Linked DNA regions of Homo sapiens. The protein of the gene in region 5 purifies or fractionates together with the protein of the main gene of each other region. This does not show direct contact. Each region holds a gene or a part of one and is shown on either strand. Other genes may lie near its edges.

Evidence for each region.
Region 1: the proteins of SPNS2 (region 5) and CLPB purify together in Homo sapiens (affinity purification with mass spectrometry; one large-scale study listed by BioGRID and IntAct). This does not show direct contact.
Region 2: the proteins of SPNS2 (region 5) and HK1 purify together in Homo sapiens (affinity purification with mass spectrometry; one large-scale study listed by BioGRID and IntAct). This does not show direct contact.
Region 3: the proteins of SPNS2 (region 5) and TRAFD1 purify together in Homo sapiens (affinity purification with mass spectrometry; one large-scale study listed by BioGRID and IntAct). This does not show direct contact.
Region 4: the proteins of SPNS2 (region 5) and RNGTT purify together in Homo sapiens (affinity purification with mass spectrometry; one large-scale study listed by BioGRID and IntAct). This does not show direct contact.
Region 6: the proteins of SPNS2 (region 5) and TTC27 purify together in Homo sapiens (affinity purification with mass spectrometry; one large-scale study listed by BioGRID and IntAct). This does not show direct contact.
Region 7: the proteins of SPNS2 (region 5) and PPP6R3 purify together in Homo sapiens (affinity purification with mass spectrometry; one large-scale study listed by BioGRID and IntAct). This does not show direct contact.

What each region holds. Positions count from the first base shown.
Region 1 is NC_000011.10:72,291,532-72,295,031, reverse strand, and holds part of CLPB (mitochondrial disaggregase), read left to right. Parts: intron 1-338; coding exon 339-412; intron 413-587; coding exon 588-707; intron 708-905; coding exon 906-1,010; intron 1,011-1,416; coding exon 1,417-1,665; 3' UTR 1,666-3,500. UniProt on the Homo sapiens protein: Functions as a regulatory ATPase and participates in secretion/protein trafficking process. Has ATP-dependent protein disaggregase activity and is required to maintain the solubility of key mitochondrial proteins.
Region 2 is NC_000010.11:69,377,847-69,381,346, reverse strand, and holds part of HK1 (hexokinase-1), read right to left. Parts: intron 1,486-3,500; coding exon 1,252-1,485; intron 1-1,251. UniProt on the Homo sapiens protein: Catalyzes the phosphorylation of various hexoses, such as D-glucose, D-glucosamine, D-fructose, D-mannose and 2-deoxy-D-glucose, to hexose 6-phosphate (D-glucose 6-phosphate, D-glucosamine 6-phosphate, D-fructose 6-phosphate, D-mannose 6-phosphate and 2-deoxy-D-glucose 6-phosphate, respectively).
Region 3 is NC_000012.12:112,149,560-112,151,831, forward strand, and holds part of TRAFD1 (TRAF-type zinc finger domain-containing protein 1), read left to right. Parts: intron 1-191; coding exon 192-312; intron 313-2,241; coding exon 2,242-2,272. UniProt on the Homo sapiens protein: Negative feedback regulator that controls excessive innate immune responses. Regulates both Toll-like receptor 4 (TLR4) and DDX58/RIG1-like helicases (RLH) pathways.
Region 4 is NC_000006.12:88,904,619-88,908,118, forward strand, and holds part of RNGTT (mRNA-capping enzyme), read right to left. Parts: intron 1,823-3,500; coding exon 1,747-1,822; intron 338-1,746; coding exon 97-337; intron 1-96.
Region 5 is NC_000017.11:4,497,566-4,501,680, reverse strand, and holds the start of SPNS2 (sphingosine-1-phosphate transporter SPNS2), read right to left. Parts: upstream 2,801-4,115; 5' UTR 2,634-2,800; coding exon 2,264-2,633; intron 1-2,263.
Region 6 is NC_000002.12:32,631,050-32,634,549, reverse strand, and holds part of TTC27 (tetratricopeptide repeat protein 27), read right to left. Parts: intron 675-3,500; coding exon 545-674; intron 1-544.
Region 7 is NC_000011.10:68,463,752-68,467,251, reverse strand, and holds part of PPP6R3 (serine/threonine-protein phosphatase 6 regulatory subunit 3), read right to left. Parts: intron 1-3,500.

The DNA.
Region 1 (3,500 bases), on a different chromosome or scaffold from region 5:
GTGTCTGTCACCTTTTCCATTCAAGATCGAGCCCTGCAGCCCCCTTCCTCCAAGTCAGGACTCAAGTCTTAATCCTGACGTTTCCTCTCCTCTCCCTCCCTCACACAACTCCCACCCTGAGGAATCGCAGACTTCATACACTTGAGAGCTGGAAAGGCCTCCGAAAGTGCCTGGTCAGAGGAGGAGACCAGGCTGAAGCCCAGAGAGCCTTAGACCTTGACCAGGACCACACAGATGGACAGGACCAGGGCTCTTTCCATGGGCAGGCCAAGGGGCAGGCACAGCCCCCAAAGTTCCCTGAATGTGGGGAATAAGCAGTTTATGATTCTTCTCCACAGGGGATGTCCAGATAAGTGACAAGATCACCATCTCAAAGAACTTCAAGGAGAATGTGATTCGCCCTATCCTGAAAGTAAGAGGTCTTTCTTGGCACTTCCTGCTGGAGCCTAAGGTTGGGGGAGGGTGATCTTAGCCATCCTAAAGATCTGGAAGCCCCATAATTTCCCCAGTCTTCCCCTGGTGTCTGGTAATTTCCCTAACCCGCTCTGGGTCACTGAGCTCATCCCACCCCTAACCTGGCCCTTCAGGCTCACTTCCGGAGGGATGAGTTTCTGGGACGGATCAATGAGATCGTCTACTTCCTCCCCTTCTGCCACTCGGAGCTCATCCAACTCGTCAACAAGGAACTAAACTTCTGGGCCAAGAGAGTAAGAGGGAACTGCCCATGGGTGGGGGCGGGATAGCCAGCCACTGGAAATCTGGAACACTGGACTGGGGGCACCCCCACACACATAAAAGGTGGAGCACAGTGGTGTGGGGCCAGTGGCCCTGGCCTCAGGCCAGAGTGGCAAGAGATGGAAAGCAGTGGGCCACATGCAGGCATGCTTCTATCTGACCCATCTCAGGCCAAGCAAAGGCACAACATCACGCTGCTCTGGGACCGCGAGGTGGCAGATGTGCTGGTCGACGGCTACAATGTGCACTATGGCGCCCGCTCCATCAAACATGAGGTGAGCACAGGAGCCTGAGAAATGAGGCGCCTCCACACCTCCCTCCCCAGGGCCCCCCAGACCCAGTCCCTGAGCTCTCAGCCTGCCTCCCTATAGCTTGGTTGCTGGATATTCACACCCAGAGTGGATGCCCATTCAGAACCATAAACACATGATCACCAAGTAAAACCCCTGCTGGAGGGTAGCCCAGTATGAACCCCACTAGGACCAGGGAACTGGGCTGGGAGCCTCAGAAACTTGAGCGCAGTCCTGCGAGCTAGCTGTTATTAGCCCCAATTGGCAAATGAGAAAGCTGAGGCTCAGGCTCAAAGGAGGTCTCTGAGTTGCCCTAGCAGTAAGTGATGGAGGCCGACCTCCAAGCTGGGTCCAGGCCGAGGGAGTGACCACTTCACCTCCCCACCGACAGGTAGAACGCCGTGTGGTGAACCAGCTGGCAGCAGCCTATGAGCAGGACCTGCTGCCAGGGGGCTGTACTTTGCGCATCACGGTGGAGGACTCAGACAAGCAGCTACTCAAAAGCCCAGAACTGCCCTCACCCCAGGCTGAGAAGCGCCTCCCCAAGCTGCGTCTGGAGATCATCGACAAGGACAGCAAGACTCGCAGACTGGACATCCGGGCACCACTGCACCCTGAGAAGGTGTGCAACACCATCTAGCAGCCACCTGCCTGCTCCTATGTGCCCTCACCATCCAATAAAGGCCCCTTGGCTGTGGCATGGCAACTGACTTACCTTCCCCTCATGCCGCTCCCATCTCTACCCAGTCTCAGGCCTGCTTACCTCCTCACAGCCCATGAAGACCCCTTCTCAGCCCCAAAACCTGAAGGAGGAATTTCGCCCTACTCTGGCCCCTTTGTTGTGGGCCCATAACCTGCTAACAAGCCTTCAGGAGAGGAGCTGCCTTTCCACCCCCTTCAAGGCAAGGAGGGATGGAGGTCCCTTATTTCCTTCAGAATGATCCCCATCCCCCATAGTCGCCAGACTTTCTCATGTTCCCAGGAAGCTCAGAAGTATGGCAGCTAAGAACACAGCTGGCTGGAAGAAGACAGGGACCAGACTGAACTGCCACCCTCTGCTAGTCCTCATGCAACTCAGTCCCCAGAATGGCTCCACTGGGAGTGGAGGAAGAGCTCAGAGGCCCAGGTGCAGATAGTTCTGCAATTTAGTCTGTAGCCTCCTCGTTCCCTACCCTAAAATTCTAAGGGGAAGGGACCCATAGAGGCTTGCCTGTTTCCGCTACTATATTATGCCCAGTGTTCCTCCTCACCCCACGTCCTGGGGTCAGGCCAGACCATGTTTCGTCAGCCTTGGGGACTAGGCCAGTGTTGGGCACCTCCAGGAGGAGGCCTGACTGGTTCATTACCCTCCCCTACTCAGACTGAGCAGCAGTCCCAGATAACCAAGCAAGCTCAGCTCTGTGGGGGCCTCCTTCAAAAGACCAACATCGCAGACATTAGGAAGCTGTAGGAAGAGAGATCATGGGTTTGACCTCTGCCCACATGGCCATGGAGTCAGCCTCAGCCCTGTCTGTACTGCTCGTCCAGCTAAACGAGCCTGGAATAAACATGCAGTTTATTCAGTCTGCATGTTAGTCACAAAGCAGAGGGTCTGGACACCGTCCCCCAAGGGCATTTCACAGACCAGCCAATGTTTCAAGCCCACCTTAGCCAGGCACAGTAAGGCCTGGTGCATCCTTGGGCACCATCTACAGTAGCCACTGCTGATAAGCAGTCCACCCACCTTCCCCCACAGGCCCTTCATGGAACCCTCGCGTAGTGTTAGCTAGTCTTTCAGGAAGCAGAGAATGGGGCCAGGAATCAAAGTCCCTTGGGTAATGGAAGCATGTCCTAACAGTATGGTGGGTATGAGGCAGTCAGAATCCAGGGTGTGAGCTCCAGCAGATGCTTGGATCACTGTCTACCCCTCAGGGGCTGCTGCTCCCTACCTCACTGACTGCCTTTTTTTTTTTTTTTTTTTTTTTGAGACAGAGTCTCACTCTGTCCCCCAAGCTGGAGTGCAGTGGCGCGATCTCGGCTCACTGCAAGCCCTGCCTCCCAGGTTCACGCCATTCTCCTGCCTCAGCCTCCCGAGTAGCTGGGACTACAGGTGCCCACCACCACGCCCGGCTACCTTTTTGTATTTTTAGTAGAGACAGGGTTTCACCATGTTAGCCAGGATGGTCTCAATCTCCTGACCTTGTGATCTGCCTGCCTCGGCCTCCCAAAGTGCTGGGATTACAGGCATGAGCCACTGGACCCGGCCTGCTTTTCATTGTTTTTTACTTTTTGTTTTGAAATAATTTTAGACTTAGAGAAAGTTGCAGAAATAGTAGAAAATTCCCATGTATCTTTCATCTAGCATCTCCCAATGATTACATCCTACAAAGCCATACTGTAGTTTATCAAAACCAGGAAATTGCCGGGTGTGGTGGCTCATGCCTGTAATTCCAGCACTTTGGGAGGCTGAGGCAGGCAGATTACCTGAGGTCAGGA
Region 2 (3,500 bases), on a different chromosome or scaffold from region 5:
TCCTTGGCTCAAACCCTATCCCCTCAGCAACACAAAACTATTTCTCTCTCTTTCTTTTTTTGAGACAGGAGCTCATTCTGTCCCCCAGGCTGGAGTGTAGAGGCACATCAGGTCACTGCAACCTCTGCACCCCCATGCTCAAGTGATCCTCCCACCTCAGCCTCCCAAGTAACTGGGATTATAGGCACACCACCACACCCAGCTGTGTATGATTTTTTGTAGAGCCACATTGCCCAGGCTGGTCTCGAACTCCTGGGCTCAAGCAATCCACCTGCCTCAGCCTCCCAAAGTGCTGGGATTACAAGTGTGAGCTGCCATGCCAGGCCAGAACTATTTCAATTGAAGTCGACATTCTTTGAGCCATCAACAGAACTGGGTGTGAAGGTGCAGTACTGACATGGGTGCTTCACATGCACATTGTATTTATATGTACAGTGGGAAACAACTCTGAGGTCCTGTGCAAAACAATCATGTCACAGGCTAGCATTAAAACTTATTAAATAATGACTTAGAATTTCCCTTTAGCCTTTTAAAAAAAGTATAAGCCACGTTCTCACAGGACAACATGGCTTCTAAAACTAAGGTGAGATGGCATGAGGACTGGCTGGGGCCACTGACAGACCAGAAGGCTGTGTGGGGAACAAAGCACCTCCTTGCCAATGGGGACAACTTACAGCTCCTGCAGCTCCAGCTCTCAGAGGCCAAGCACAGACAAGCTGCCCATTTAAAAAAGTAAAGTCTGAGGGTTTGGGGGGTTTTAACAGGAGCTTCTGAAACAAGAATGTGGGTACCACACCTATGACCCAAGGTCCTCCTGATGAAATGCGGACGAGAGACAGACACATTCCACCCAGAGGAGCCGACAGCTACAGAAATCTCCATCTCGACTTTTGACAGGGCGAGGTAACGACAGAGTGCAGAAGCAATACCAGCAAGAATCGACTAAGGGCGATACTTCCCAAGGGGGCGACGCTGACCTTATGCCCAGAACTAAGCATGTTATTTATCTATTTATTTATTTTCAATTTTTCGTAAAGATGAGGTCTTACTATGTTGCCCAGGCTGTTCTCAAACTCCTTCCTCCTGCCTCGGCCTCTCAAAGTGCTAAGATTACAGGCATGAGCCACAGCCCCCGACCACCATTGTCTTGTCTGCCGAAAAACGTTTACCGGGTACAAAAGTCTGATCTCTGGAGAAGGTCCCTACCCACAATGGGTACAGAGTGCCAATGATAGCAAAGGGCAGACTCACTGTGGGTGCGTCTTGTAAAGAGATCCGTCGACACCAACCGTGGTCCGCAGCCTGGGTGTGCCCTTGTTATCACGCAGGCGGTTCAAGATGGCGCCCAGTGTGGCAGCCACCAAGTTGGCTGAGCGAAATGAGACAATGGTGCAAACGTGCTGGACTGAGACACAGTCATCATCGGACGGCTCCACTCCCAGGCGGGTCAGGATTTCTTTGGCATTGTGGAGGCCTTCCTTATTCCTGTGAAGTTAGAAGCCAATACTGATGCACTGAGGACCACATGAGGCAGTGCAAAGCACTGAGGCTCAAAGGTGCTGGAAAGGGACAGCCCCACTTACCATGTGTGGGATGGTATGGGATGGTATGGGATGAAGACTGTCAAATGCCTGAGAAGAGCCCAGGAAGGGTTCTCCTCCATAAGAAATGCCAGGTAGTGATAGGAAAAACTGTACCAGGTTGCACTATGCCAAGCCAGGACCATGAAGAGAAGTGGAGAGGCAAGACTATGTGGCCTCTGAACAGGTGGCGAAATGGCTGCCACCACCCAGGGCTCATGAGGCTCAGGAGAACCTCCCACTCGTGGGGTCTGTGAGTTGCCCCTGGATGCTTATACATCCTTCCTTGATGTCTCTCAGTGAAATTGTAATTTTCTGTACACGTGTTTTGTGTATCTTTTGTTGGATTCATTCTGAAGTACTTTATAGTTTTGTTATTGCTGCAAATGGTGCCTTTAAAATATATATGTATACATACAGGCATACATATACACTCACACATACACACAAACACATATACATACACTCTATCTTTGCAGCTTTCCTGTAAATCTAAAATTATTCTTAAAAATGTGTTTTAAAATATGTACATATTTTTATTATTGCTGATAGAAATACAGTTGACTTCTGTATCTTATCTCCAGACATCTTTTTTTGACAGATTTTTTTTAATATTTAAAAACAAAACCAACCTCGCCCCAAATAACCCCCAAACAAAAAACCAGATTAAATAAAATGTACAGTGAATATACCCAGCAAACATCTGTATGTGCAATCAAATACTGTGTCTGTTACTGCGGCACGAACCTCAAACAAACAATATACAAGTGTTCTGGGAGGGTCGGGGGAGTCCCAAGTTTTAACTCTGTGGGGTCTAGGAAGACAAGATGGGGAAGTGAGAGAATGGGGAAATCAATTTTGTTTATCTTAATTCTGTCCATATAAATATATTCATAAAGACCAAAAAAGGAAAGGAAGCTTGGGATGTTAAGGTAATACGAGAATAGGAGAGTGTGGGACTTTCCCAATTCTACCTGACCAAAAAATATGAGAGAAATTAATTTTATGATGGGAGAAGAGATTTTAAAAATGATAGAAGAGGATGGGGGCTGGGCACAGTGGCTCACACCTGTAATCCCAGCACTTTGGGAGGCCAAAGTGGGAGGGTCACCTGAGGTCAGGAGTTTGAGACCAGCCTGGCCAACAAGGTGAAACCCCATCCAGACATCTTTTTAACCTCTCCCGTCATTCTATTCATTTGTCTGTAGATATTTTGGGGGTATTCCATATAGACTTTTACCATTTGCAAATAATGACAGTTTCACTTCTTTTTTGATTCTCATACCTTTAATTTATCTCTCGTCTTTTCTTTAAAAACAAAAACAAAAACGAAAACCCACTGGCTAAGACTCCAGTACGATGCCAAATAGAAACTGGTGATACTGTCTCGCTCCTGATTTTAGAGAATGCCTCTAACATCTGCTCTTGTAGGATGTTTTTATAGTTTTTTTTTTTTTGAGATAGCCTTTATTATAATATACATGCTTTCTTGAGCTAGCTGGGTTTGTGTTTCTTGGTAACCAAAGAGTCAATACCAGAAACAGGCCAAGAGGAAGGCATGCATTTCCTGACTTGGCCAGTGATTTTCAAGACAATCCACGAGTCTCCCGCTCCCCTTCCTTCCCAGCCACTGACCAGGAGACTCATGAAAAGGGACAGCTGGAAACTCAGGAGAGTGATCATACAACAAACTCCAGCACATGGATTTGGCAGAAGAGTTGGTCCAGATAAACCCCTTTCCTCTTCCAGCAGCTGCCTTCTCTAACCTCAAAGAGAGCTGATGCAAATCTTCACAAGGAGACAGAGAATCCCGGGTTTCTTGTGTGATGCCAAGGGGCTACAGTTAGTTGCTGGCTGGCTCTGTCCTTCCTTCTAACTGTCCTGTCTCATCTGTTAACCGGTGTTTCTCAAACTTGCACG
Region 3 (2,272 bases), on a different chromosome or scaffold from region 5:
GTCAGTGCCTCATGTGCCGATGGGATTGAATGCAACCATTCCAGATGTGTGGTTTCTGAAAGTTCCCAGAACTTTCAGAGGTTGTCAAAGTCCCCCTCCAGATGAGGAATACACTGCTGTTCCTCCCATCGCATGCTCTTTTCTGGGAATGACTCAATTCAGAGGTACTAATTCTGGTTTTTCTTGTTTAGGACCAGTGTGACCAACGCCCAGCCACTGCAACCAACCATGTGACAGAGGGGATTCCTAGACTGGATTCCCAGCCTCAAGAGACCTCACCAGAGCTGCCCAGGAGGCGTGTCAGACACCAGGGTATTTATTAGCCAGGACTCAGCCAAGGCCGCAGGTCTACTGCTGGCTCCGGCCTGTTTACCACTTCCCATCCACTGCTCTAATGTGGGGATTACCTGCATCTCAAATTTCCAAACACACTAGGGTCTCATAGGGGACTCCTCTGCAGGTAGTTGTGGTCCCACATTAGACTGAGCTCTCTCAAGTGTGTGATTTTTAGGGTAATGGCTTTGCGGACATCCATGAGATACATGTAGTAGTAAGTGCTTGTAATAAGTTTCTGGTTTCCTATCTGTGCACTTAGTGGATTATTTGTAGATAATTTGCAGACCTTATGGTAGCTACCCTGGGCCCCCATTTCAAGTTGAAATACACTTAGGGTACTCAAACCTATTATTATTATTTAATTTTTTTGTAGAGACAGAGTCTTGCTCTGTCACCCAGGCTGGAGTACAGTGGCACAATCATAGCTTACCACAGCCTCAAACTCCTGGGCTCAAGTGATCCTCTCTCCTCAGCCTCCCAAGTAGCTGGAACTACAGGCACACTCTACTACACCCAACTAATTTTTTTGTTTTTGTAGAGATAGGGTCTTGCTATGTTGCCCAGGGTGATTTCGAACTCTTGGCCTCAAGTAGTCCTCCTGCCTTGGACTCCCAAAGCATTGGGGTTACATGCGTAGGCCACTGTGACCGACCTCAAACTTATTTATTTAATTTATTTTTTTTAGACAGGGTCTCTTTGTCATCCAGGCTGGAGTGCAGTGGCGTGATCACTGCAGTCTCAACCTCTTGAGCTCAAGTGATTCTCCCACTCTTAGCCTCCTGAGTAGCTGGGACTATAGGTAGGCTAGGTGCCCACCAACACACCCAGCTAATTTTTAATTTTTTTTTGTAGAGTTGGGGTTTCGCCACATTGTCCAGGCTGATCTTGAACTCCTGGGCTCAAGTGTTCCTCCCAGCTCGGCCTCCCAAAGTGTTGGGATTACAGGTGTGAGCCATCACACCCAGCCTCAAACTTATTATTATTACTTAAGACCATCATGTTTAGGCAAGTAAACTGTTTTTGAAACCTCACCACTACAAAGCCAATTAGAAATTATTTTTTGGCTGGGCATGGTGACTCACACCTGTAATCCCAGCACTTTGGGAGGCTGAGGTGGGCGGATCACAAGGTTGGGAGTTCAAGACCAGCCTGGCTGACATCATGAAACCCCGTCTCTACTAAAAATACAAAAATTAGCCGGGCGTGGTGGCGGGCGCCAGTAGTCCCAGCTACTTGGGAGGCTGAGGCAGGAGAATCACTTGAATCCAGGAGGCAGAGGCTGCAGTGAGCCAAAATCATGCCATTGCACTCCAGTCTGGGCGACAGAGCAAGACTCCATCTCAAAAAAAAAATTATTTTTCAAGGTTTGCTTGCACACTATTGTTGAATAGTTAGGAGGCTGTCTTTGAGGACTCAGATAATATGTGCAGAATTGATAAAATATCCCCATCTCTGCCCTGGAGATGTGGGTTCCAGCAGCCTTTTGGGGTGAGCAGTTGTCTTTTTTTTTTTTGAGACACAGTCTTGCTCTGTCTTGTCCAGGCTGGAGTGCAGTGGCATGATCTTGGCTCACTGCAGTCTTCACCTCCTGGGTTTAAGTGATTCTCCTGGTCTCAGCCTCCTGAGTAGCTGAGACTATAGCTGTGTGCCACCTCACCTGGCTAATTTTGTATTTTTTTTTTAGTAGAGATGGAATTTCACCATGTTGGCCAGGCTGGTCTCTAACTCTTGACCTCAGGTGATCCCCGCACCTCGGCCTCCCAAAGTGCTGGGTTTACAGGCATGAGCCACCACGCCTGGCTGAGCAGTTGTCTTCTATCTGGAATCTTTTTGTTCCTGCCCTAAACCTGGCACTATAGCCAGAGCAGGCTTTTTCCTAAAGCTGTTACCATTTTCTCTTCTCAGGAGACCTGTCTTCTGGTTACCTGGATGATAC
Region 4 (3,500 bases), on a different chromosome or scaffold from region 5:
GCTAAAGAAACATGGCCAATATTCCATTTTTATAAATCTCAATAAGCTTGCAGAAAAAGGAAAAAAAAAACCTATTATAATATTTTTAAACATTACCAGTTTTAACCGTTCTTTTCTCCTTTTGCCAAAAGAAGCACTTGACCCGGGTTCTGATTCCTTCTTTCCATCCTCATCCTCATCTTCGTCTTCATCATCCTCAAAACACCAATCTGGCAATAGAGGTGGGGGTGGTGCTTCCTCTATGTCACCATACCGACGAAAAAGTTCCTTCAAATAATCACCCTTGTAGATTCCTGGTGGTCTGGCTTGGGCAAAAGTAGCAACTGCTGCTTCGATACTATAGGAAACAAACACCATGCAATTTCCTCGCTATCCTCTATTTATGCAGGCTTATCAAAAACTCACTTATTATATTCAAGGCTCCATATAAAGTACAACAGAAGTTTATAAAATGGGCAAATCACAATCCTCACCCTCAAGTCATTCAATCTATTAAGGGACACATTCATTCTGAAAAGGTTTTAATATAAGGTATTCAGAAAATTCTGAAATTCTAAAAATAAATTGCTATGAGTATATAGTAGAGACCTAGATAGGGTCTGTGAAGAATTTAGTCTTGAAGGTTGAGGTCTGACTCTGCAGCAAAACATCAGTCAAAAAAACAACAATGTGAGCAAAGTAAAAGCATATTGATTTTACAGGAACTTTCAACAGATCCAGGCACTAAGAGTCTAGATCATCAAAGAGAGGATAAGCATAGGCTAAATCTGACATAGGAAACTGAGATCATTGTGGAGAGCATCTGAATGGTCAGAGCTAGAAAGTACATGCAGTACAGAACCACCAACAATGCATACTGCAAAATTCAAAATCATATGTGTACTTCAACTGATTATATTCAAAAAAGGACCTACTATGTGAAAATCTTTGTAAACATAAATAATGATGCTCCCTCAGTCAACAAGAAAATTCAGTTAGTAATATATTCTCTTAAGAATATTGGGTACTAAAGTCGTAATCTCTCAGGATCTAAAAACACACTTCAAAAATAACAGATGCTCAATAAAGACATGTTGATTGGCTTAAATGGAGTAACACTCTCCCAAAAATACTAAAATACAAAATATTGGAAGAATCTGTCTCTGATAATTCTGTAAGAGGTGAAAAAAATCTGAAAAAGTGAATATACAGTTTATGAAATTCATAAGCACTCAAAGTGATTTGCTGGTTAATGCAAAACACCTGGCTGGGTGTGGTGGCTCATGCCTGTAATCCCAACATTTTGGGAGGCCAAGGGTGGAAGATAACTTTAGCCCAGGAATTCAAGATCAGCCTGGGTAACATATGGAGACCTCCTCACTAGACAAAAAAGAAAAAATTAGCCAGGCATGGGTGGCACATACTTGTGGTCCCAGCTACTTGAGAGGCTGAGGCGGGAGGATTGCTTGATCCCAAGAGGTGAATGCTGCAATGAGCCATGATCACACCACTACACTCCAGCCTGGATGACAGAGGAAACCTTGTCTCAAAGAACAAAACAAAACATACATATATACACATACACACATACACACACACACCAAGTAATGGTAGTATAAAGATTAACCATATCTAAAATGAAAAGCAGTTCAAATTACATTAATCATGAGTTCACCAAAAACTTGACAATACAAAATTCTGCAACTAAAATATCAATAAAATTTTTTATTACAAAATACATCTTCCATTATAACAAGATACAAATACCTCCAATCCATTTTCTCCACCAAAAAGGCACATATGAGGAAACCAGTGCGATTGAAGCCATGAGTACAATGAACACCTAGAAAATAAAGTAGCTTTGGTTAAAATTAACAAATCACTGCAGAGGCCACATTTACTTTAAAATTCCAACCTGCAATCAAAACATTTCAGCTAGTTTATAAAATAATTACATTTTTTAATTTTTTAACTTGAAACACCCTTATAACTTGAAAACTTGTCAGTTTGAATTGCTTAGAATCTAATTTATAACTAGCTAGAAGTTTAAGTGTAATATATAGGTTTATTGATGTAAAACTGTCTCTACTGTTTAACAAGTTCTCCTAAAGCTAGAAGATTCCAAGCATTTTAAATAAGGAGGTATTTTCATCAAACACACAACTCAAAAGGACACATAAAACACATACACACAAGATCCTTCTGACCCTCAAACTTTAAATTTCTCTAGTAGAAAAAAAACGGTCCTCTTCATGATCAATGGCATATATTTGCAAAATAGTCAAATCCTATTTTCTAAAATCCAGAAGCTAGAACAGAGCAAATAAACTAATAGAAATATAAATTCATATGGGGCCTGATACTAATTAAATATAATCAACAAAAGTGACTAGCTACAGAAAATAATTAACTGATAGATATATAGTACAATAAAAATTAAGTTACCTTGAAGCTCTCTAGAAACCAACTAACTGTATTTTCAAGTTAGGTTATAATCTTTCTAAATAAATTTTTAAAAGAAAGAAACCAGCTAGGAAAGAAAATTTATTTTCTTAAACTCTTTCTCAGAACATATTCAAGATCATTTTAACTACTGATATGGTTTGGCTCTGTGTCCCCGTCCAAATCTCATCTCAATTTGTAATCCCCACAATCCCCATGAGGGAGAGATCTGGTGGGAGGTGACTGAATCATGGAGGTGGTTTCCCCCATGCTGTTCTTGTGATAGTGAGTGAGTTCTCATGAGATCTGATGGTTTTGTAAGTGTTTGACAGTTCCTCCTTCACATGCCCTCTCTCTCTCTTCTCACCACTAAGATTGTAAGTGTTTGACAGTTCCTCCTTCACATGCCCTCTCTCTTTTCTCACCACTTAAGACGTGCCTGTTTCCCCTTCCACCATGATTGTAAGTTTTCTGAGGCCTCCCCAGGCATGCACAACTGTGAGTCCATTAAATTTCCTTCCTTCATAAATTACCCATTCTCGAGTAGTATCTTTATGTGAGAAGAGACGAATATAACTAGTTTGAAAATAGTAATTAAAACATGACAATATTGCTGACTCTCCTACAGTCTTCAAAATGAAGCTTTTCCTGTTATTTCTATTTAATTAAAGGATATCCTAATATTTAAGCTGTATCTTTTTTTTTTTTTTTTTTTTTAGAGACAGGATCTCATTCTGTCAACCAGGCTGGAGTTCAGTAGCATGATCAGGTTCCACAGCCTTGACCTCCTGGGCTCAAGTGATCCTCCCACCTCAACCTCCAGAGTAGCTGGAACTACAGGCTCACACCACCATCCCCAGCTAATTTTTTTCTATGGTAAAGACAGGGTCTCATTATGTTGCTCAGGCTGGTCTCAAACTCATGGGATCAAGCAATCCTCTCACTTCAGCCTCCCCAAGTCTGGGATTACAGGCATGAGCCACAATGCCCAGCCTGTATCTTTCTAATATTACCTTCTACAAATTATTCTTCTCTGTATATATAGATCATACTGATACAGTGCAACTAAGATCAAATAT
Region 5 (4,115 bases):
TCCTAAAAACTGAACTTGGGGAAGTGGAGATGGGGAAATCTACCATAGAGAGAGGGGCAACCAGGCTTATCCGGAGAGGAAACCTGTGTCTGTTGTGTGTTGGGGGTGGGGTGGTGTGTGAGCTCCCACTCCAGGCCAGGAGAGGGAGGGAGGCACAGCCCAGGCAAGTGTTTGCACAGGACTTTCCGGGCCTTCCTCCCTAACTGCCCCACGCCCCTCTTAGCCACCACTCCCCACCTCCCTTTACCAATTCACCACAAATTTCCTATCTCATTCCCCCATGCTGACAATCTGACTCAGAGACCTGAGTAGAAGTGGGAGCAGATAAGTGCCAGCCCTCCCTGATCCCACCCTCTCTGGCTCTGCCCCTGGCAGAGGCAGTTCCCCTAAGAACGTCAAAGGGGGTGGTCTGGGGCCAGAAAAAAAACAAGTTGGAGAGCGCTACAGTGCCAGAAGTAGTACCATTCCTTCTTCAGCTGAGAAAGGGTGGGAAGACCTCCTCCCAGGCAGAGCCTTACTGTTAGAGCTAACACCAGCTTTGCCAGTCACTTTCCTGGCCATCTTGAACGGGGGCTGTACAGGGACATTGGTCCCCCTATCTGTGTACAGAAGCCTTTTGTGAACTGACTACAGGTCCCAGGTATTCTCTGATTTCTCCCCCAAAGGATGGCGCTTATGCTCCCAGGTCCCCGGCAGCATGGTGCATGCGTGACAGCGGCTGGCGTTTTTGGGAGGTGCTCAATATTCCTGCTCTCTAGACCAAAGTAAGTTTCTCTTTGGGATAGCTCGACCCAGAAACTGATGCCACTGGTACCCACTTCCAATTTCCTCCAGCGGAAGGACAGAGAGCCAAGGGGGGTTGAAAGCAGGAATGGGGGGAGGGGGAAGCCTCTGCCCTCCCATCAGAATTCTTCCCTTCCATTTGACACAAAACTCCATTCAACAGACGGGGAGACTGAGGCCCAGAGAAGGCACCAGGTGGCATGTGGTTTATGCCCGGGCTCTCTTCCCTCAATTGCCGCAAAGTTCTCTTTAGAGTCTGTCCAAAAATAAATCCTTCCCTCTCTCCTATCTCCTCTCTCTCTCTGTTGTGTGTGTGTTTGATAGCTCCAGATTTTACTAAGCTATAGTTACGCAGGTTCTGGGCCAGCATGCCAGGCACACAGTACTGCTCTCCTCCTGCAGGGAGCCCCTTCCTATGCCAGTCTGGCCAAAGTCCTTCCCTCTCAAAGCTCCACCATTCCCAACCAGTAGCAGCTCAGTCTAGGGCAAATTCTTACCCCTAGACCCACCCCTAATTGCTGGGGAAGGGAGCCAGCAGAAGGCAATTCCAGAACCACGTGCGTCCCCCAAAGGCCCAATGATCAATCAACTCACAAACGGGCAAACAGACCTAAACACACGCTGAGACTGGCCCAAGGTCACACACCAAGCACATTAGGAGCAAAGCTGGGGCTAGAACCCAGTTGTTCTATCGATCCCAATCCCGTCCCCAAGGCTGATTCCCAGAGATGCTCCCTGAGGATGAGGCTCCACGTCTCTAGCTCCAGAGGCCTGCGCCCTACCCTACACCCCAAGCACCATAGAGCAGGGGGAGGCGTCTCCAGGCCTCTGTACAGGGCCAGCTGCAAACCGCAGCCTGGGTCCCCAGGCGCCGCGGACCCGCCCCGCCCCTCCCTCCGCTCCCCGCAGCCCGGAGCCTTTGTCAGCCACGCGCTCACACACAACCGCGCCGCCACGCGCACACACACCCGGTCTCCCTAGCGCACACCCGCAAGGGGCGCGCGCACTCGCCGCACGCACGCAGGGGGGTGGAGGCGGCGGAGAAAGGAAGGAACTGACGGGCCATGGACGGACAGACGACCTGGGCTGGGGGAAGGGAAGGGAAGGAGGCCCGGGAACCGGCAGCTGGGGTCGGAGGGGGCGCAGAGACAAGGAGACAGAGAGACGCAGAGGAGACTCTTGGAGAGGAGGACAACGGATGGGCCGTCAAGGGCTGGAGAGGACGCGCGGGCTGCTCCAGGGGTGGGGACTCCTCTATCCCTTGGCCCCGGGTGTGTATGAGCGGGGAGCTGGATTGTACCCGTGGTGCACGGAGGCATCCCTTGCCCAGTTGTGCCTGAGCAGAGGGTCCGTAGGGACCTCACGTAGGGCCTGGAGATAGCAGGCCTGAGACCAAAAGCTCTCTGGGGTACCTCCCTCGAGGCGGGTGGTGGGATGGGGTGGGGTCTTGGTCCTCGGGCTGGGTGGGGCACTCGCTCACCTGCCACGGTGTACCTGTCCAGGTAGTTGAGCACGTTGCCCAAGCTGAGGATGGCGGCGGCTGCCCCCCGCCCGCGGCCCAAGCTGGCCGGTTTGGGCTGCTGAGCGCCGGGGCCCTTTGCAGTAGCTGCGCAGCCGGGGGTGCCGGGGGTGCCGGGGGGTCCGGTCGGGGCCCGCCTTACGCTGCCCGACAGCGTCTGCACCTCATCGCCCGCGGCCGAGACTCCAGCGCCGCCCGCGCCCCGCGCCCCGCAGCAACCGCTACCGCCAGCCCCTCGCTGCGCCCCCCGGCGCCGGCGCCGCCGCTCCGCGTCCGCCTCCTCCTCCTCCGCGCCGCCCGCCGCCGCCGAGGCGCATTCCAGGCACATCATGCCGGCCCGGATCGGGGCGGCGGGGGGCGCGGGGGGCGCGGGGCCCAGGCTGGGCCCGCTCAGCGCGTGCGTGCGCCGCGGAGCCGCCACTGCACCATCCTGGTCGGGCCCCGTCGGCTCCTGCGCTCCGGCCCCGGCTGCGGCGCTGCCACCGCTCAGCTCGCTGCGCCTCGTTCGCCGCCGCGGCTCTGACAGCTGCGGCCCGGCCCCGCCCACCAGGCCCGCGCCCAATCAGCTCCGGGCTCGGGCCACAGCCCCGCCCCGCACGTGCTGCCCTGGGGGTGGGGGGCCCGGGGACTGGGGGCCCGGGCGGCAGAGCCCCTCCTGCCAATGGGGGCGCAGTCACGCCGGGGCCGACCGGCCGCGAACGCCCGCGGGGAGCGGGAGAGGGTTTGCTCTGGCTACGGAGCTGGGAGCAGGGTGCTGGTGACGGGGCTCCCAGCACCTACTCAGTACCCTTCACCCAACCCCTGCCTCGGGCGTGGACTCCCGGCGGAGGCTCTGGGAGCCGGGCTGAGGGCTTGAGCCTAGCGTATCTGGGAGAACTGGAGAGAGGAGTCTCAGATGGCTAAAGTCAGGGGCGCCAGTTGGAGAGCCGGTGGCTCCTCCGATACTCACACGCCCGGATTTAACCAGTTCAGGGAGGGCCCAGAACCTAGACCTCCACCAGTCATGGTGGGCTGTGTCTCCCACCTCCCCAGGGCAACCCAGATCCAGCCCCCAACCTACCCCGGGCCCATTCCTGTGTGGGCACCCGGACCCTACCCTTGCCCCACAGAGTGGCCCGCAGCCCCTGGCGGGGAGAGCAAGGGCTGTGATTGGGGCCCAACAGAAACAGGATATTCAGAAGGGGCTTTCCCTCCTGAGGGACCACATCTCCAAGCTTCAGACTTCCAGGTATGTGCTAGAGAGGGTACAAAGCCCCCAGTGGCAGACAGGAGGCTGGGTCCTAGCTCAGCTCTGCCCTGGTGTGTGGCATGATCCTGAACATGACACCCACTCTCTGGGCCTCCATTTCTGTATCTGGGGGCAGATGGCAGGATGGGATTCAGTCTGGAAATCCACGGGTGGTCACCTCCCCTTGGTGGGACGGGGCGGGGGTCTGCCTCCTATGGAGAGTGGTTGGGGTGCTTCTGTGTTCCTGACATCCCATCACGGTTTCACCCCTCCTTAGAGGTGCTGTGGCTCTGTGACGATCTCCCCCTTCCCTCCCCCATTCACCTGTTTGGGGAATTAAAATCGAAATTAAAATCCTGTATAAAGTGCAGAGGACAGAATGTTAGAACTGGACAAACCCTCGGAAACCAGTTAATCATTCCCTGTGTTTCACAGACAAGTCCCAGGGCACGGACGTGACCCATTACGAACAGGCAGTGAAGCTGTGGCAGGGCTGGAGCTGCCCCAGGCTCTGGCATCATCCCCGAGGGCTGGAGCTCACTCCCCGCTAGAGGCTTTTCCGGACCCCACGTCCACAGGCAGGTG
Region 6 (3,500 bases), on a different chromosome or scaffold from region 5:
TGGGAGGCTGAGGCAGGCAGACCACTTGAGCCCAGGAGTTTCAGACCAGCCTGGGCAACATGGCAAAACTCCATCTCTACAAAAAAATTAGCTGGACATGTTGGCATGCAACTGTAGTCCCAACTACTTGGGAGGCTGAGGTGGGAAGATCGCCTGAGCCTGAGTAGGTTGAGGGTGCAGTGAGCTGTAATCCAGCCACTGTACAACAGCCTGGATGACTGAGTGAGATACCATCTCAAAAAAAAAAAATCTTTATGTAACTGAGGTGATACAACCAACTAAACAACTGGTGCAGCTGTCTGTACTTTCATTAAAAAACACAGCTAACACAGCTCCATAAAATGGAGTGTGTATGAAGAGGAGTTTGACAAAGGAACTTCTGGAAATCTGTGAAAATCTGATCAATGAACAAGCATTCTTAGTACTTTTGTGCAAACCATAAAGTCATGTTTCTTTCCTACTATGAGTTCCAGTTTATAAAGACCTGCTTATAAAAAATAAATAACATAATAATAATTACATACAACATTTTCAAGAAGCATACCTCACTGAATTGCTGGAACAAAACAGATGACAAAAAGTCCTGAGGGTGTAAGTCAACAGGGGGCCCCGTCCAGTTGCTCTGAACAAAAAGTTGCAAACTGCTCACACCAAGTAGAAATATCAACTGTTGTCTGCATATAAGAATGGTTAAAGAAATAAATATGAACTACTATCACTGTATAATCTCAAACACACTATTCCATTTCAGTTTTATTAAGAAAATAATATCTATCAACATTTATTGAGACTATCCTAGAGTATTACCAAAAAAAAAAATTTCTAAAACTTAAAACAATTTAGGTTAGCTAGGCACAGTGGTTCATGCCTGTAATTCCAGCACTTTGGAAGGCCACGGTAGGAGGATCATTTGAACCCAGGAGTTCAAAACCAGCCTGAGAAACATAGTGAGACCCTGTCTCTACAAAAAAATTAAAAGTTAGCCGGCATGGTGGTACATCCCAGCTACTCAAGAGGCTGATGCATGAGGATTGCTTGCAGCCCAGGAGTTTGAGGCTGTAGTAAGCTTTGATCATAGCACTGTACTCCAGCCTAGATGATAAAGCGAGACCCTGTCTCTCTTAAAAAAAAAAGAAATTAGGTCTACAATATCCAATATTATAGCCACGAGCCAAACATGGTTTAAATTTGCATTAGTTAAAATTAATAAAATTTATAATTCAGTTCCTTAGTCATACTTTCCATATTTCAAGTGCTCAATAGTTAAGTGTGGCTAGTGGCTACCATGTGGGCAATGAAGATAGAGAGCACTTCTATCTCCACGGAAAATTATCTTGAACGGTGTTGATTTAGGTTCTGATCAGACATCTATAAGTTTTTCTTGCACTCCCTTTAACAGCTCTGATGTTGCAAGATGTATAGAAAACTGACTTTATACAAAAGAAAAGTGATGATATAAAGTTGTTGCTAATTGTTTACCAATCCCATACCACCAAATGCTAGAACAACAACAACAACAAAACATATAGATATTTTAGTGAAAACTCTATTTTTCAGTCTTGCTGTGATGTGAGACAGGGATAGGCAAACTTTTTCTAAATATGAAATATTTTAGGCTTTGCATATCATGTTTGTTTTTTTCCAACCCTTTAAAAATGTAAAACCCATTAATTCTTAGCCACTTAGTTAGCCTGCCAGCCATAATGTGCCAAACCCTAAATTAGGATCTAAATAGGTACAGATCCAACTCTAGCAAATAACAGCCAGGGAATCCTGGAGTTTCATTCTGAAGAGAAAGTATTAGTAATCACTTTTTTCCCCACAGCCCCTAGGCCCTTCCTTAAAAGGAAGAGTCTTTCAGAAAAAGAAAAAAAAAAATCAAACATACAAGCCTATGGTAGCAAAAATATAAAACTCTGGATGCAATGCAAATAAGCAGCATTAGAGAAAAAAGATAACAAAAGAGCTGGTATGCAATCAGAAGTTTGGAAATTTGGAGAAAACAGCCTTAATAAACTGTCCTAATCAAAAAACAAAATCCATAAGGTGAACTGAAAATACACTTTAACTTTCAAATGTCTGAAAATGAGTCAACTGAAATGTCTCTTTTTAGCTTTATGTGACAAGATAGAAATCTGGTATATCAGTGAATAATGCATTTGTGTGAATGTGTTGTTTTAATGGGTGCCACAAGGCTAGTTGCTATGAGAGTGCACACATATAAGAAAGCAATGAGAATCCAGCCGGGCGGAGTGACTCATGCCTATAATCCCCACACTTAGTGAGGCAGAGGTGAGGATTGCTTGAGCCCAGGAGTTCGAGACCAGCCTGAGCAACATATCAAGACACCATCTCTACAAAAAGGAACTAAAAAAAAAAAAAAAAAAGAATGATACCAAAGGAACATAACTACCAGTAAACTAAAAAAAATTAAATGGAGGCTGGGCGAAGTGGCTCACGTCTGTAATCCCAGCACTTTGGGAGGCCGAGGTGGGCAGATCACCTGAGGTCAGCAGTTCAAGACCAGCCTGGCCAACATGGTGAAACCCCATCTCTACTAAACATACAAAAAAAATGAGCCAGGTGTGGCACAGGCCTGTAATCCCAGCTACATGGGAACCTGAGGGAAGAGAATCACTTGAACTTGGGAGGCGGAGGTTGCAGTGAGCCGAGATCACGCCTCTGCACTCCAGCCTGGGCAACAGAGTGATACTCCATCAAAAAAAAAAAAGAAAAAAGAAAATGAATAATATTAATTTTCAAAATAAAATTAAAAGCCTGTAGTAGCATTCTTTTGCAAACTCCTTATGAATATGGGTTATGCTTTATTCATCCTCAGAACCTCCACATCTACTACAATAGTTTATTTGTTGAAGGACTAAATGAAGCTATTTCCTAGAAATAATGGTAAAATAAAATTGCATGCATTTATAAGATAATTAAAGCTTGACATGGTTGCCACAGATAGTAGACGAAAGATAGAGGTATCAAATTTATAACAATGAAATATAAGCCACTGAAAAGCTTAGGTTTCCCTGCTGTGTAACTATCTGCTATACTTAACCCTATAAAATTACACAAACTTTAATGGAAGAAGGTAAACCAAGGGCTTCCTTACAAAAACATTAAGTTCTCTGAGCTCTATAAAGATAATAATCTAAAACATAATAAATAGTTACAAATTAGCACTCAGCTATGCAGAAATAACAAGATTGAAAGTATGTTTTTTGTTTTTTGGTTTTTTTTTGAGACAGAGTCTCGCTCTGTCGCCCAGGCTAGAGTGCAATGGCGGGATATTGGCTCACTACAACCTCCACCTCCCAGGTTCAAGCGATTCTTCGGCCTCAGCCTCCCTAGCAGCTGGGATTACAGGCGCATGCCACCATGCCCAGCTAATTTTTGTATTTTTGTATAGACGGGGTTTCACCATGTTTGCCAGGCTGGTCTTAAACTCCTGACCTCATGTGATCCGCCCGCCTCGGCCTCCGAAAGCACTGGGA
Region 7 (3,500 bases), on a different chromosome or scaffold from region 5:
AGTACAAAATCAGAGCCTCCTTATATCTGTAAAAAGATGTTCAGAACCTATCGAACTTTAATTGCATAAGTTCAGTCAACTGTATAGTCTTCACTAATGCATCTAAAACAGGTCAACTCTAGCCAGCCGTAAGTGACAATTAGTAAATAGCCTCTACTCAGGGTAAAGCCAGCTCTTTGCCCAGTCTGTGACATGACAATGTCCTAGCTAGGGCCGGGTGCAGCGGCTCACGCCTGTAATCCCAGCACTTTGGGAGGCCAAGGCGGGCGGCTCACTAAGAGATCGAGACCATCCTGGCTAACACGGTGAAACCCCGTCTCTACTAAAAATACAAAAAATGGCCAGGCGCGGTGGCTCACGCCTGTAATCCCAGCACTTTGGGAGGCCAAGGCGGGCGGATCACAAGGTCAGGAGATGGAGACCATCCTGGCTAACACGGAGAAACCCCATCTCTATAAAAATACAAAAAAAATTAGCCGGGCGTGGTGGCAGGCACCTGTAGTCCCAGCTACTCGGGAGGCTGAGGCAGGAGAATGGTGTGAACCTGGGAGGCGGAGCTTGCAGTGAGCCGAGATAGCGCCACTGCACTCCAGCCCGGGCGACAGTGTGAGACTCCGTCTCAAAATAAATAAATAAATACAAAAAATTAGCCGGGCATGGTGGCCGGCCCCTGTAGTCCCAGCTACTGGGGAGGCTGAGGCAGGAGAATGGCGTGAACCCGGGAGGCAGAGCTGGCAGTGAGCCGAGACCACGCCACTGCACTCCAGCCTGGGTGACAGAGCGAGACTCCGTCTCAACAAAAAAAAAAAAAAAAAAAAGAAAATGTCCTAGCTAGGCATAGAGATAAGATACCTTTCCACATACTGTCAAATGCCCTTTTACTTGCTTCTTTACCACGTAGCCAACCTACCTGGTATCCAAATGTCAGTCTGTAATCTTTCAATACCTGAAATAAACTGAGTATTGATCTAACTAGCAACTATCTCCCTCCTCATAAAACTAAAGGGGGTGAGAAGTAGGAAAGGGGGCTTCCATGACAAATAAATCTAAGCCAAAGTCAAAAGGCCAAAACAAAATCTCCAGTCAACCTAGATCCATAATGCAGCAGGAGAAACACCCCCTCCCACTTGAAGTAGCATCTATTTCAAGAATGCCGGAAACATTTTGCAAAAACCTACAGCAAGCTTCGGACGGGTCTGGAACCAGAGAGTCAGTGTCTGAGGTTTGGTCAAAGGATAACTGTTGTGTAGGGAGCTATAAACAGCTATCTGTCATTACAAAACGGCTTCAGTATGGGAAGAATGGCACTGCTTTTTAAGACTCCTCAAACTAAGGAGGCAAGTCGAAGTAATCATTTCTTATAAATGAGTAACAAAGTGTAACTATCTTATTCTTTTGCAAAACTTCTGGCAATCTCAACCACCCAAAGTTTAAACAAATCAACCAACTGACCAGCAAACAGAAGCTCTTTCCTCCCAGGCCCCATTGACACCATGTACAATTCTTAACAGCTTTGTCGTCTCTTGTTTGCCTCTTCCTCTAGACTGCAGGTCCTTAAGGGCCTGTTCATCAGTGAATCCCTAATACAGTTCCTAGCAGAGTAAGGACTCAATTAATGTATTTGCTGATGAAATAAATGGATATTAGAAGTAGATGGTGGTCACTGGTAGTTCTCAACATAGGCACAGGCCGAATTTCAGGATGAAGAATAAGAAAATGCCTCCATGACCTTTTGTAACTTCAGATATTAACATTTAGCTGCTAAAAATTTATAGTTTTCCTAATATTCTTCCATTCCATAAACTAGATAATCTAAATTTTAATATGAGCAAAAAAGATCTACCCTTCTCTCTACCACTGCATCTCATCTCCCCAGGAGAAAAGAACACTTCTCTGCTGGGATCAGAGTCTAGGGCACAGAAGAGTCCAACTTACCAGTGGGCAGGATCACTGTGTTAAAGGCTGAGCATACTGTATGCCTATCTGTGCCCTCAATGGGCAGAACTGGTAAACTGATCCAGGGCTAATTCTCTGGGAATAGGTCTTTATTAAAACAAAAACAAAAACAAAAAACAGGCATGGTGGCTCACGCCTGTAATCCCAGCACTTTGGGAGGCCGAGGCGGGCGGATCACTTGAGGTCAGGAGATCGGGACCAGCCTGGCCCACATGGTGAAACCCCATCTCTACTAAAAATACAAAAATGAGCCAGGTGTGGTGGCACGCACCTGTAATCCTAGCTACTCAGGAGGCTAAGGCAGGAGAATCACTTGAACCCAGGAGGCGGAGGTTGCAGTGAGCCAAGATCATGCCACTGCACTCCAGCCTGGGTGACATAGTGAGACTGTCTCCGAAAAAAAAAAAAAAAAGTTGAAGCTGGCATCTAAAACCAGACCTGACCACTGACTGACAAAAGGAGGGCAAAAGATACTAACTCAAAAATTACAGTAGTGTAAGATTATTCAGCACAGAAGCAAACTCTAAATATCTAAGAATTTTGCTTAGTTTCAGCACAGTATGGTAATGTATTTTCATGAGGTTAAGAAAAAAAAGTCCTAAGATATTTTATAAAATCAATTAACAAATGCTTCTAAAGTTCAGTCTTCAGGCATCTGAAAAATGGTTAAGTATACCATCTAAATAATCCCCACTACTAAATAATCTCCAAGGCAGGATCTAGGTACTGCAAAGACCAAGTTCACAGATCACCGAAAGGAACCCTTAACTCACAAACAGTCCCTAAACCTGTGGTGTAAAACAGTGGTTCCAAAATTCAGCTGCATTTCAGTATTGTCTGAGAAGCTTCTAAAAAATAGATTCTCGTGGCCGGGCATGGTAGCTCACACCTGTAATCCCAGCACTTTGGGAGGCCGAGGCGGGTAGATCACGAGGTCAGGAGTTCAAGACCACCCTGGCCAAGATGTGAAACTCCATCTCTACTAAAAATACAAAAAACAGCCGGGCATGGTGGCGGGTGCCTGTAATCCCCGCCACTAGGGAGGCTGAGGCAGAGAACTGCTTGAACCCAGGAGGCAGAGGTTGCAGTGAGCCGAGATGGCACCACCACACTCCAGCCTGGGCGACAGAGCTAGACTCATCTCAAAAAAAATTAATAAGATTCTCAATCCCACCATTTCCAGAGGTGGAGTCCAACATCCATGGTCTTAAAAAATTTCTAATTATTCTAATGCAGGCTTATTCTAATGTAGGCCAGTCTCACATCTATCTAAGTGCAGGATTTCTCAACCTCAGCAGTGTTGCTATTTGGGACTGGATACTTTTGCTGGCGGGCAGGGAGGAGGCTATGCTGGACACTGTAGGATGTTTAGCAGTATCCTTGGCCTCTACCCTCCAGAAGCACACTGCCCACTCCCAGAGGTGTAACAAGCAAAAATATGTCCAGACACTGCCAAATGTTTCCTGGGGGGTGAGGGGGGAACCACCCCCAACTGAGAACTCTTGAACTAGAGTAAATCAAAAGACAATCATTTGAAGTTAAGA